Homo sapiens: one gene and its partners. Changing the gene in region 1 together with any one later gene gives a genetic interaction. Each region holds a gene or a part of one and is shown in the gene's direction. Other genes may lie near its edges. The genes, in order: PBRM1, NDUFC1 and TULP2.

Region 1 (3,652 bases):
TTCTATATAATAAATTTGATTATTATACTCTTTTTTTTTTTTTTTTTGAGACGGATTCTCACTCTGTTGCCCAGGCTGGAGTGCAGTGGCACGATCTCGGCTCACTACAGACTCCGTCTCCTGGGTTCCCCCAATTCTTCTGCCTCAGCCTGCAGGGTAGCTGTAACTACAGGGACACGCCACCATGCCTAGCTAATTTTTTTGTATTTTTAATAGAGACAGGGCTTCACCATGTTGGCCAGACTGGTCTCGATCTCCTGACCTCAAGTGATCCGTCCGCCTCCGCCTCCCAAAGTGCTAGGATTACAGGCATGAGCCACCGCACCCAGCAGATTGTTATACTCTTAAACCCATGATCTAGAGCAGTCTCCTTCCTTTTCTTTCCACATGCCAGTAACTCATTGAAGAAATCAGGTCACTTTCCTGTACAGTGTCCCAAGTTCTAGGTTAGACAGGCTTGCTTCCTTGTGATATCTGTAACTTTTTTCTTTATTTCCCTTATTTCTTATAAATAGAAGTTAACTTTGAAGGTGCGATTAGATTAAGTTTCACCTTGGTGGTGATACTTTATAAGGGGTTTGCTGCCCTTATGTTGTATCATGTCTTGAGGCAGTGTCTGGTTAAAGTAGAATCCAGATAAAGTCCACATACTGCAACTGATTGATACCTCTTTTTTTTTTTTTTTTTTTTTTTTGAGACGGAATCTCGCTCTGTTGCCTAGGCTGGAGTCAGTGGCACGATCTCGGCTCACTGCAACCTCCGCCTCCTGGGTTCAAGTGATTGTCCTGCCTCAGCCTCCCAAGTAGCTGGGACTACAGGTGTGCACCACCACGCCCGGCTGATTTTTGTGTATTTTTAGTAGAGGCAGGGTTTCACCATATTGGCCAGGCTGGTCTTGAACTCCTAACCTCGTGATCTGCCCGCCTCGGCCTCCCAAAGTGCTGGGATTAAAGGTGTGAGCCACCATGCCCAGCCCGATACTTCTTTTAATCTGTAAACTCCCCTCCAGCTCTCTCTTTTTCCACCCCTTACCATTTATCTGTTGAAGAAATTAGATTTGTGCTGTAGTTTCCCATAGTCTGGGTTTTGCTGATTGCATCCATATGTTGTGGGGTTTTTTGTGTGTTTTGTGTTTTGTTTTGTTTTGTGGAGACAGGGTCTTACTCTGTCACCCAGGCTGGAGTGTAGTGGCACATTTTTGGCTCATTGCCACCTCCACCTCCCTTCTGAAGCAGTCCTTCCACTTTAGCCTCTCGGGTAGCTGGGACTACAGGTACACGCCACCACGTCCAGCTCATTTTTTTGTATTTTTAGTAGAGACAGGGTTTTGCTATGTTGCCAGGCTGGTCTTGAACTCCTGGGCTCAAGTGATCTGCCCACCTTGGCCTCCCATAGTACTAGTATTGCAGGCATGAGCCACAGCTCCTGGCCCACTATGTTGTACTTTCATGTGTTCCTCTGTCCTTTGTATTTCCTATAAATTGGTAGTTGGAGCCAGAGGCTTGATCAGATTGAGGTCTGATCCCCTGTTCTCTCCCTTAGGCAGAAAAACCGACTTCATAGGTAATATATGGTCTTCCATCAGGTACATGTGAAATCTATTTATGGCTTTCTGTTAACAGGTGTTGTTGCATACTTCATTAATTATTAATTCATGAAAGGGATGTAAAATTGTGATAGTTTTTAATTTTATTCCTTATTAGCTATAGAGAAACTTTGCCTTATCTAATATTTGATTAGCCAGTGGTACAGTGTTTTTTTTGTGTGTGTCTTGCTTTTTGAAAGGATAAAGGCTTGATTTTTGTTTTATTTTGTTTTCACCTTTACCAGTTTTCAAAATATGTATTGGTTTACTAACATCCTTCAATATTTACCCATTTTGTTGTTTGTTTGTACGTATTATTAAGAACTACCAGACTTAAACATATGGCTGAGTTGTAATTGAAGTTATTGTCCTTATTGATACTCAGGCTGGTTCAGGCTCGTTCCTGTATTCTTTTTGTTTTGTTTTTTTGAGACAGAGTCTCGCTCTGTCGCCCAGGCTAGAGTGTAATGGCTTGATCTCAGCTCACTGCAACCTCTACCTCCTGGGTTCAAGCAATTATCCTGCCTCAGCCTCCCGAGTAACTGGGATTACAGGCGCCACCACCACACTCGGCTAATTTTTTGTATTTTTAATGGACACAGGGTTTCGCCATGTTGGCCAGGTTGATCTTGAACTCCTGACCTCAGGTGATCCACCCACCTTGGCCTCCCAAAGTGTTGGGATTACAGGCATGAGCCACCACGCCCAGCCGGTTCCTATATTCTATTGACATGAAGTCATGGTAAGAAGTCATTGATAGATTCTTTACTGTCTAGTGTTTGAAGATATACCAGACTGGGAATCAGCCATTTACCAAGGAGCCCTACCTTTTTCATGTTTCTGCTGAAAGGTGAGGGCTCCTCAACATTACTATTTGGAATTAGTATTTTAAAACTCTAATGTGGGCTATACTGCTACTGAGGTAGTCATTGTTTGTACGATTTTCAGTGGACAGAGCTAGGAAATTTGTGTGTTTGTTTGTATGTTTATATTTAAAGATAAATTACATCATAAGTTCATAGTGATACTTTCAATTGAGATTAAAGGCCTCAAGGTAATTATTAATGTCCTACGTTTTAACATCCGTTATCTCTTTTTATCCCATGATGAAAATCTCAGTTCTCCAGGATACCAGAGGTGATAGAATGTCACATAGCTACTCATTTGCTTTATTCCTTCTTATTCACAGCTTTCTCAACCTTACAGTAGTCTCCCATCAAAAATATAATTACTGAAAACAGTTAAAAAAAATTTTTAGTACTTTTTTGTCTGCAGGTTATATTTCACTATAGACATGCTAATTGCTAGATTTTACAAATTACTTGGAATCGTCCCTTGTGGTTATGCTACCATCTGTATACAAATTTAGGTTCATTTATTTTATTCATTTAACATTAAATATCTCTCTTTAGGTAGGAAGAGTGGCATTTCTCCTAAAAAATCAAAATACATGACTCCAATGCAGCAGAAACTAAATGAGGTCTATGAAGCTGTAAAGAACTATACTGATAAGAGGGGTCGCCGCCTCAGTGCCATATTTCTGAGGCTTCCCTCTAGATCTGAGTTGCCTGACTACTATCTGACTATTAAAAAGCCCATGGACATGGAAAAAATTCGAAGTCACATGATGGCCAACAAGTACCAAGATATTGACTCTATGGTTGAGGACTTTGTCATGATGTTTAATAATGCCTGTACATACAATGAGCCGGAGTCTTTGATCTACAAAGATGCTCTTGTTCTACACAAAGTCCTGCTTGAAACACGCAGAGACCTGGAGGGAGATGAGGACTCTCATGTCCCAAATGTGACTTTGCTGATTCAAGAGCTTATCCACAATCTTTTTGTGTCAGTCATGAGTCATCAGGATGATGAGGGAAGATGCTACAGCGATTCTTTAGCAGAAATTCCTGCTGTGGATCCCAACTTTCCTAACAAACCACCCCTTACATTTGACATAATTAGGAAGAATGTTGAAAATAATCGCTACCGTCGGCTTGATTTATTTCAAGAGCATATGTTTGAAGTATTGGAACGAGCAAGAAGGATGAATCGGTATGTTTTCAA
Region 2 (3,652 bases), on another chromosome or scaffold:
GCTGCTGATGATAGTTAATTCATCTTACCCCATGTGCTTGCATGTCACTATGTTCCAAATGCTAACTCTAAAAAATATTAACCAAAAAGAAAGAAATAAAATCATTTACCTTGCAAACTTTAATTCTACAAAAGGGATATGTTGAGTGAAATTTCTCCATATATGTAAGATGTTCTCTATTGAGACTGTTACATCTTATTAAGTACTTGGATCTTATTTAAAAAAAAAAAAAAGGCTGGGCTTGGTGGCTCACACCTGTAATCCCAGCACTTTGGGAGGCTGAGGCGGGCGGATCACAAGGTCAGGAGTTCAAGACCAGCCTGACCAACATGGTGAAACCCCGTCTCTACTAAAAATACAAAAATTAGCCGGGTGTGGTGGTGCGTGCCTGTAACCCCAGCTATCCAGGAGGCTGAGGCAAGACAATCGCTTGAACCTGGGAGGTGGAGGTTGCAGTGAGCCAAGATCGCACCACTGCACTCCAGCCTGGACAACAGAGTGAGACTACATCTCAAAAAAAAAAACATAGGCCAGGCATAATGCCTCATACCTATAATCCCGACACTGGGAGGCTGAGGCAGGAAGATCGCTTGAGCCCAGAAGTTTGAGACCAACCTGGGCAACATAGTGAGACCCTGTCTCTACAAAAAAATTTTAAAATTTGCCAGGTGTGGTGCTGTGAGCCTGTAGTCCCAGCTACTTTGTGGGCTTGGGTGGGAAGATTCCTTCGGCCCCAGAGGTCGAGACTGCAGTGAGCTGTGATGACACCTCTGCTCTCCGGCCTGGGCAACAGAGCTGAGACCTTGTTCCAAAAAAAAAAAAAGAATATAAAAGAAATTCATGTATTTGTCACCTAGATTTAACAAATGTTAACAATTTGCTATTGCTTCTGGGTTTTTTTTGTGTGTGTGTATAGACAGGATTTCTCAATGTTGCCCAGGCTACTCTTGAACTCCTGGGCTTAAGCAATCCACCCACCGCAGCCTCCCAAAGTGCTGGGATTATAGATGTGAGCCCCAACGCCCGGCCTGCTGCTGAATCTTTTTTTTTTTTTTTTTTTTTGAGACAGAGTTTCGCTCTTGTCGCCCAGGCTAGAGTGCAATGGTGCGATCTCAGCTCACCGCAACTCTGCCTCCTGGGTTCAAGCGATTTTCCTGCCTCAGCCTCCCGAGTAGCTGGAATTACAGGCATGCACCACCATGCCCGGCTAATTTTGTATTTTTAGTAGAGACAGGGTTTCTCCATGTTGGTCAGGCTGGTCTTGAACTCCCGACCTCAGGTGATCCGCCCGCCTCGGCCTCCCAAAGTGCTGGGATTACAGGCGTGAGCCAGGGCGCCCAGCTGCTGAGTCTTAAAAAATAAAAACTTATAGATACATCTTGGTGTGTGGGGAGGTGGGAGGTTGTTGGTTTTTTTCTTTTGTTTTGTTTTTGTGACAGGGTCTCACTGTGTCACCGAGGCTGGAGTACAGTGGCAGAGTCTTGGCTTACTGTAGCCTCACCTCCCAGGTCCAAGCGATCTTCCAACCTCAGCCTCCCGAGTAGCTGGAACCACAGACATGCACCACCACACCCAGCTAATTTTTTAAAAAATCATTTTGTAGAGATAGTTATCTACCTATGTTGCACAGGCCAGTCTTGACCTCCTGGACTCAGGCAATCCATTTACCTTGTTCTCACAAAGTGCTAGGATTAGAGGCCTGAGCCACTGTGACTGGCCCAAGTCCTAAGTTTGATTCATAGTATTCTCATGCATGCTGTATCAATAAAAATAGGGATTTTTTGTTTTGTTTTTTGCATTTTATACTGTTTTTCAATTCTTGCTCTTTTTTTACCTTCCTTGGGAGATGTGATTTTTTCCCAGTGGAAAAATCTTGGACTGAAACTTTGCTTTTCTAGCTGCTAACTCAAATCCTCTCTCTTTTCACCTGGATCATAAATAAGATTTTAGTGTTCAAATTCTGAAGATGCTTACATGAATGTTATGAAGCAACTTCTAACAAAATATTATAGATATTAGTTCCTAGCTGGAATTACTTAATCAGGATTCTTTTCTAGATGCAGTTTCACATACAGCTGGGTACTCCAAGTGTACAGTTCCCATCAGCTCTAATATGGTGAGAAAAATGTGCTTATACTTCATCACTTTCCCAAAATACACACTAGTAAAAGGATACAAGGGCCAAAGCTCTGAAAAAGAACAAAGCAGTCTTTCTCAATAGCAGTACTGAAATTAGTAATTTGCTTACTGGTTCTGAATACTCTGACTAAAGATAGCATCTGTTTCAACTTGTTGGATACTAGCAAAAGCTTCATCAGGACAAGCTTCCAACGGATGGTGTAGAAAGGATATACAACTGACAGGTTGCTGAGTGGACAATAAGTGGCGAACCAACAACTGGCTCAGCACATTCATTGGGTAGTTTACTTACTTGAGCATGAGTCCAGGAGGCTCAAACTAGGTTACAAACTAAAGTGACTCACAATTTAGCAATCCATTTAGCCACCATTTGCATGTTAAAATGAGCCAGAAAACACAGTGCAATTAATTGACTTTTTGGTCAATAATTTTTGGTTAAAAAAGATCTTAAAATAACATTGCTAAAGAGAATATAGGAGATTTGCTAACATTTATTTTGGTTTTAAAATTAATGACATAAAGTTTAAAGGATTAGTTTTAAAGGGTCAAAATGTATTGTCTGTTACCTATAAATATTTTTACTGGTCTTTAGACATCAGATTGAACTGAATTGAATGTACAAAGATCTGGCTCAACTGTGCAAGATAAAACCTATTCCTCAGAACGATGTCTTTAATAGGCAAAACCAAATAAATTGTTTACTACTACCAGACACTTGTTTAAGCTTCTCAGCAACCCTATAGGTTTTATGTTACAGATGTAAAACTTAGGTATAGAGAGGTTAAGTAATTTGCCTAGAAATCATAGAGCTAAAAAGTGGTGAGCAGAATGGCTTTGAACGCTGATTCTACAGCTTATGGTCTAGGGTGGTCCAAGTCTGTTAGGTGGGCTAATGAGGATCACTAGATCTGGAGTCAGAAGACCTCAAACTGTATCCCACCTCTGCCATCTGTGTGATCTTAAGCCTACCTAAGGCACTAATTCTACTTCACAGGTTTGTGAGGCTTCAGTATGATCGTGAGTGTAAGTGGTAAGTGTTAAGAGATCTTTTCAACTGTAAAATATAATATGTCACCTTGGATGAGTAGCTGTCTTCTTTAAGCTTCATCTGTAAATTGAGGCTTATAACCACGGCATGATATGTGCTCGTTTTGAAGATGAAATAAGACAATGAATGTAAACCATATGATACATTAATGCACCGTGCCTGGACCACAGAATTCAATCCAAATGCTAGTTATTATTCAGCACGACACTTTTCTTTCTTCTGGCTCATGTAGGAAAATTTTAATAAACCTCTTGATGAATAGCCGTAGAGATGGGGTGAAAAACCCCCAGAGGACAGAGAATAGGTAAACTCTTTTTTCTTTTAATTATTTTCTTCCTAATTCCACTGTATAGACAGAAGGCTGAGGCCGGGGTGCTAGAGAACCTTGCCGTGCTGGAATTCACGTTGACGCCCCCACGGAGCTCTGCTGCAGAGCCCTCGAGTCCCGCACTTCCGGCCGCCAGG
Region 3 (3,652 bases), on another chromosome or scaffold:
AGACGGAGTTTAGCTCTTGTTGCCAAAGCTGGAGTACAATGGCAGGATATCGGCTCACCGCAACCTCCGTCTCCCGGGTTCAAGCGATTCTCCTGCCTCAGCCTCCCGAGTAGCTGTGATTACAGGCATGCGCCACCAAGCCCGGCTAATTTTGTGTTTTTAGTAGAGACGGTGTTTCTCCATGTTGGTCAGGCTGGTCTCGAACTCCCGACCTCAGGTGATCCGCCTGCCTCGGCCTCCCAAAGTGCTGGGATTACAGGCGTGAGCCACGGCGCCTGGCGGGGGTGATATTTGGGAGCCCAGTGACGGGGTGGATTTTGGTTGAGGACCGGAATTTGTAGATCGTTTTCATGGGCTCGCTGAACCTTCTCCCAGGCCTTGGGAACCCTTTCCTCCGGAAGAAAGTGTCAGAGGCACATCTGCCCTCTGGCATCCACAGTGCCCTGGGCACCGTGAGCTGTGGTGGAGACGGCAGGGGCGAGCGCGGCCTCCCGACACCGCGGACAGAAGCAGGTATTTGCGAGTCCACCGACCTCCTAGACCCCAGAACTCCGTCCCCACTAAAACCCAGGAGTCTGGTGCCTCAATCCATCTGTCCAAAATACTCAGGAGCTCAGGACCGCACCCACTCCTTCCTCACACCAAGGAGTTCAGGTCCTGAGCCGCCTCCTCCTGCAGCATCCAGAAATCCAACTCTCCCCTCCTTCCTTCCTCAGTGTTCAGGAATCTCGGTCTCCAGTCCCCTTTCTTATCCTGGCTCCCAGACAATTCCGATGCAGAATTGGAGGAAGTCTCCGTGGAGAATGGTTCCGTCTCTCCCCCACCTTTTAAACAGTCTCCGAGAATCCGACGCAAGGGTTGGCAAGCCCACCAACGACCTGGTAATTTAGGGGACATTGGGGTGAAACCTGGGATCTCCTGGTTCATGCAGCAAATCTTCCCCTTTCTTAGGCAGCAGCTTCACTGAAGTATAATTCACAAACCATACAAGTCACCCATTTAAAGTTCACAATTCCATGGTTTCCAGTACACGGTCGCCCCTCGGTATCTGCAGGTGATGTGTTCCAGGAACCCCACAGATACCAAGATCCGCAGACGCCAAAGTCCCTTATATAAAATGGTGTAAAATTTGCATATAAACTATGAACATCCCCCCATATACTGTAAGTCATCTCTAGATAACTTATAATACCTAATACAGTATAAATGCAATGTAAATATTTGTTGCTGTTGTTGTTGGGAGGGAGTCTCACTCTGTCGCCTAGGCTGGAGTGCAGTGGCGTGATCTTGGCTCACTGCAACCTCCGCCTCCTAGGTTCAAGCTATTCTCCTGCCTCAGCCTCCCAAGTAGCTGGGACTACAGGTGCGCATCACCACGCCCAGCTAATTTTTGTATTTTTAGTAAAGATGGGGTTTCACCATGCTGGCCGGACTGGTCTTAAACTCCTGACCTCATGATCCACCCACCTCAGCCTCCCAAAGTGCTGGGATTACAGGCATAAACCATCATGCCTGGCCCGTAAATAGCTGTTATATGTTATTTAAAAAAATTTTTAAAAATAAAGTGCCTGTAATTCCAGCACTTTGGGAGGCTGAGGCTGGTTGGTCACTTCAGTCCAGGAATTTGAGACGAGCCTGGCCAACGTGACGAAACCATGTCTCTACTAAAAATACAAAAATTAGCCAGGCAAGGGGGTGCAGGCTTGTAATCCCAGATACTCCGGAGGCCAAGGCAAGAGAGTCACTTGAACCCAGGAGGCCGAGGTTGCAGTGAGCCGAGATCATGCCACTGTACTCCAGCCTGGGTGACAGAGCAATACTCTGTCTCAAAGAAAAAAAAAATTGGTTCTGTTATTTATTGTCATCTTGTTGTTTTTCAATTTCTTTCCTGAATATTTTGGGTCAGCAGTGGGGATGTGGAGCCTGTAGGATACGAGAAGCTAACTATATTTATATAATTCTGCAACCGTCACCACAATCAATTTTAGAACATTTGTATCACCCCAGATAGAGATCCTGCATCATGGCTGGGCGCGGTGGCTCACGCCTGTAATCCCAGCACTTTGGGAGGCAAAGGTGGGTGGATCACCTGAGGTCAGGAGTTCAAGACCAGTCTGGCCAACATGGTGAAACCCAGTCTCTACTAAAAATACAAAAATTAGCTGGGCGTGGTGGCATGCACCTGTAATCCTAGCTGCTGGGGAGGCTGAGGTGGAAGAATTGCTTGAACCCAGGAGACAGAGGTTGCAGTAAACTGAGATCAGGCTACTGCATTCCAGCCAGGGTGAAAGAGCGAGACTTTGTCTCAAGGAAAAAAAAAAGAAAGAAAGAAATAGTGCATCAATTAGCAGTCACCCCTTTTCCATTTACCCCAGCCCTTGGCAACCACCAACCTCCACTGTCTTCTTAGATTTGGCTATTCTGTACATTTCACACAAATGGAATCGTATACATATGTGGTCTTTTGTATGTGGCTTCTTTCTTCAATTCCTTTTTTTTTTTTTTTCTTGAGGCAGAGTCTTGCTCTGTCTCCCAGGCTGGAATGCAATGGCGCGATCTCAGCTCACTGCAACCTCTGCCTTCTGGGTTCAAGCGATTCTCCTGCCTCAGCCTCCCGAGTAGCTGGGGTTACAGGCGCGTGCCACCATGCTCGGCTAATTTTTTGTGTTTTTTAGTAGAGACAGGGTTTCACCATGTTGGCACAGCTGGTCTCAAACTCCTGAACTTGTGATCTGCCTGCCTCGGCCTCCCAAAGTGCTGGGATTACAGGCGTGAGCTAATGCACCTGGCCTCTTTTGCTTTGAGATGGTGTGTCACTATGTTGCCTAGGCTGGTCTTGAACTCCTGGGCTCAAGTGATCCTCTCACCTTGGCTTCCCAAAGTGCTGGGATTACGGGTGTGAGCCACCGTGTGTCTTCATTCACCTCATTCACCTAATGATTTTTTTTTTTTTTGAGACGGAGTCTCACTCTGTCACCTAGGCTGTGTGGGGAAAAGAAAGAGAGATCAGATCGTTACTTTGTCTATGTAGAAAAAGGAAGACATAAGAAACTCCATTTTGATCTGTACTAAGAAAAACTGTTCTGCTGGCTGGGCGCGGTGGCTCACGCCTGTAATCCCAGCACTTTGGGAGGCCGAGGCGGGCGGATCACGAGGTCAGGAGATCGAGACCACAGTGAAACCCCACGTTTACTGAAAATACAAAAAATTAGCCGGTTGCGGTGGTGGGCGCCTGTAGTCCCAGCTATTCGGGAGGCTGAGGCAGTAAAACGGCGTGAACCCGGGAGGCAGAGCTTGCAGTGAGCTGAGATCGCGCCACTGCACTCCAGCCTGGGTGACAGAGCAAGACTCCGTCCCCCCCCCAAAAAAAAAAAGAAAAACTGTTCTGCTTTGAGATGCTGTTAATCTGCAACTCTTGTCCCAACCCTGTGCTCACAGAAACATGTGTTATATTGACTCAAGTTTTAAGGGATTTAGGGCTGGGCAGGATGTGCTTTGGTAAAAATGGTTTTGCAGGCAGTATGCTTTGTGAAAGTCATTGCCATTCTCCATTCTCTATTAACCAGAAACATAACACACTGTGGAAGGCTGCAGGGACCCCTGCCCAAGGAAGCCTGGGCATTGTCCAGGATTTCCCCGACTGAGACAGCCT

What was found.
Region 2: changes in PBRM1 (region 1) and NDUFC1 together harm fitness more than expected from each alone (negative genetic interaction), as found in Homo sapiens cells (one large-scale study listed by BioGRID).
Region 3: changes in PBRM1 (region 1) and TULP2 together harm fitness more than expected from each alone (negative genetic interaction), as found in Homo sapiens cells (one large-scale study listed by BioGRID).

Annotation. Positions count from the first base shown.
Region 1 is NC_000003.12:52,609,301-52,612,952, reverse strand, and holds part of PBRM1 (protein polybromo-1), read left to right. Parts: intron 1-2,361; exon of another isoform or gene 2,362-2,419; coding exon of another isoform or gene 2,420-2,435; intron 2,436-2,997; coding exon 2,998-3,640; intron 3,641-3,652. UniProt on the Homo sapiens protein: Involved in transcriptional activation and repression of select genes by chromatin remodeling (alteration of DNA-nucleosome topology). Required for the stability of the SWI/SNF chromatin remodeling complex SWI/SNF-B (PBAF).
Region 2 is NC_000004.12:139,295,849-139,299,500, reverse strand, and holds part of NDUFC1 (NADH dehydrogenase [ubiquinone] 1 subunit C1, mitochondrial precursor), read left to right. Parts: intron 1-2,057; 5' UTR 2,058-2,116; intron 2,117-3,133; exon of another isoform or gene 3,134-3,169; intron 3,170-3,540; 5' UTR 3,541-3,652. UniProt on the Homo sapiens protein: Accessory subunit of the mitochondrial membrane respiratory chain NADH dehydrogenase (Complex I), that is believed not to be involved in catalysis. Complex I functions in the transfer of electrons from NADH to the respiratory chain.
Region 3 is NC_000019.10:48,892,227-48,895,878, reverse strand, and holds part of TULP2 (tubby-related protein 2), read left to right. Parts: intron 1-375; coding exon 376-513; intron 514-716; coding exon 717-881; intron 882-3,652.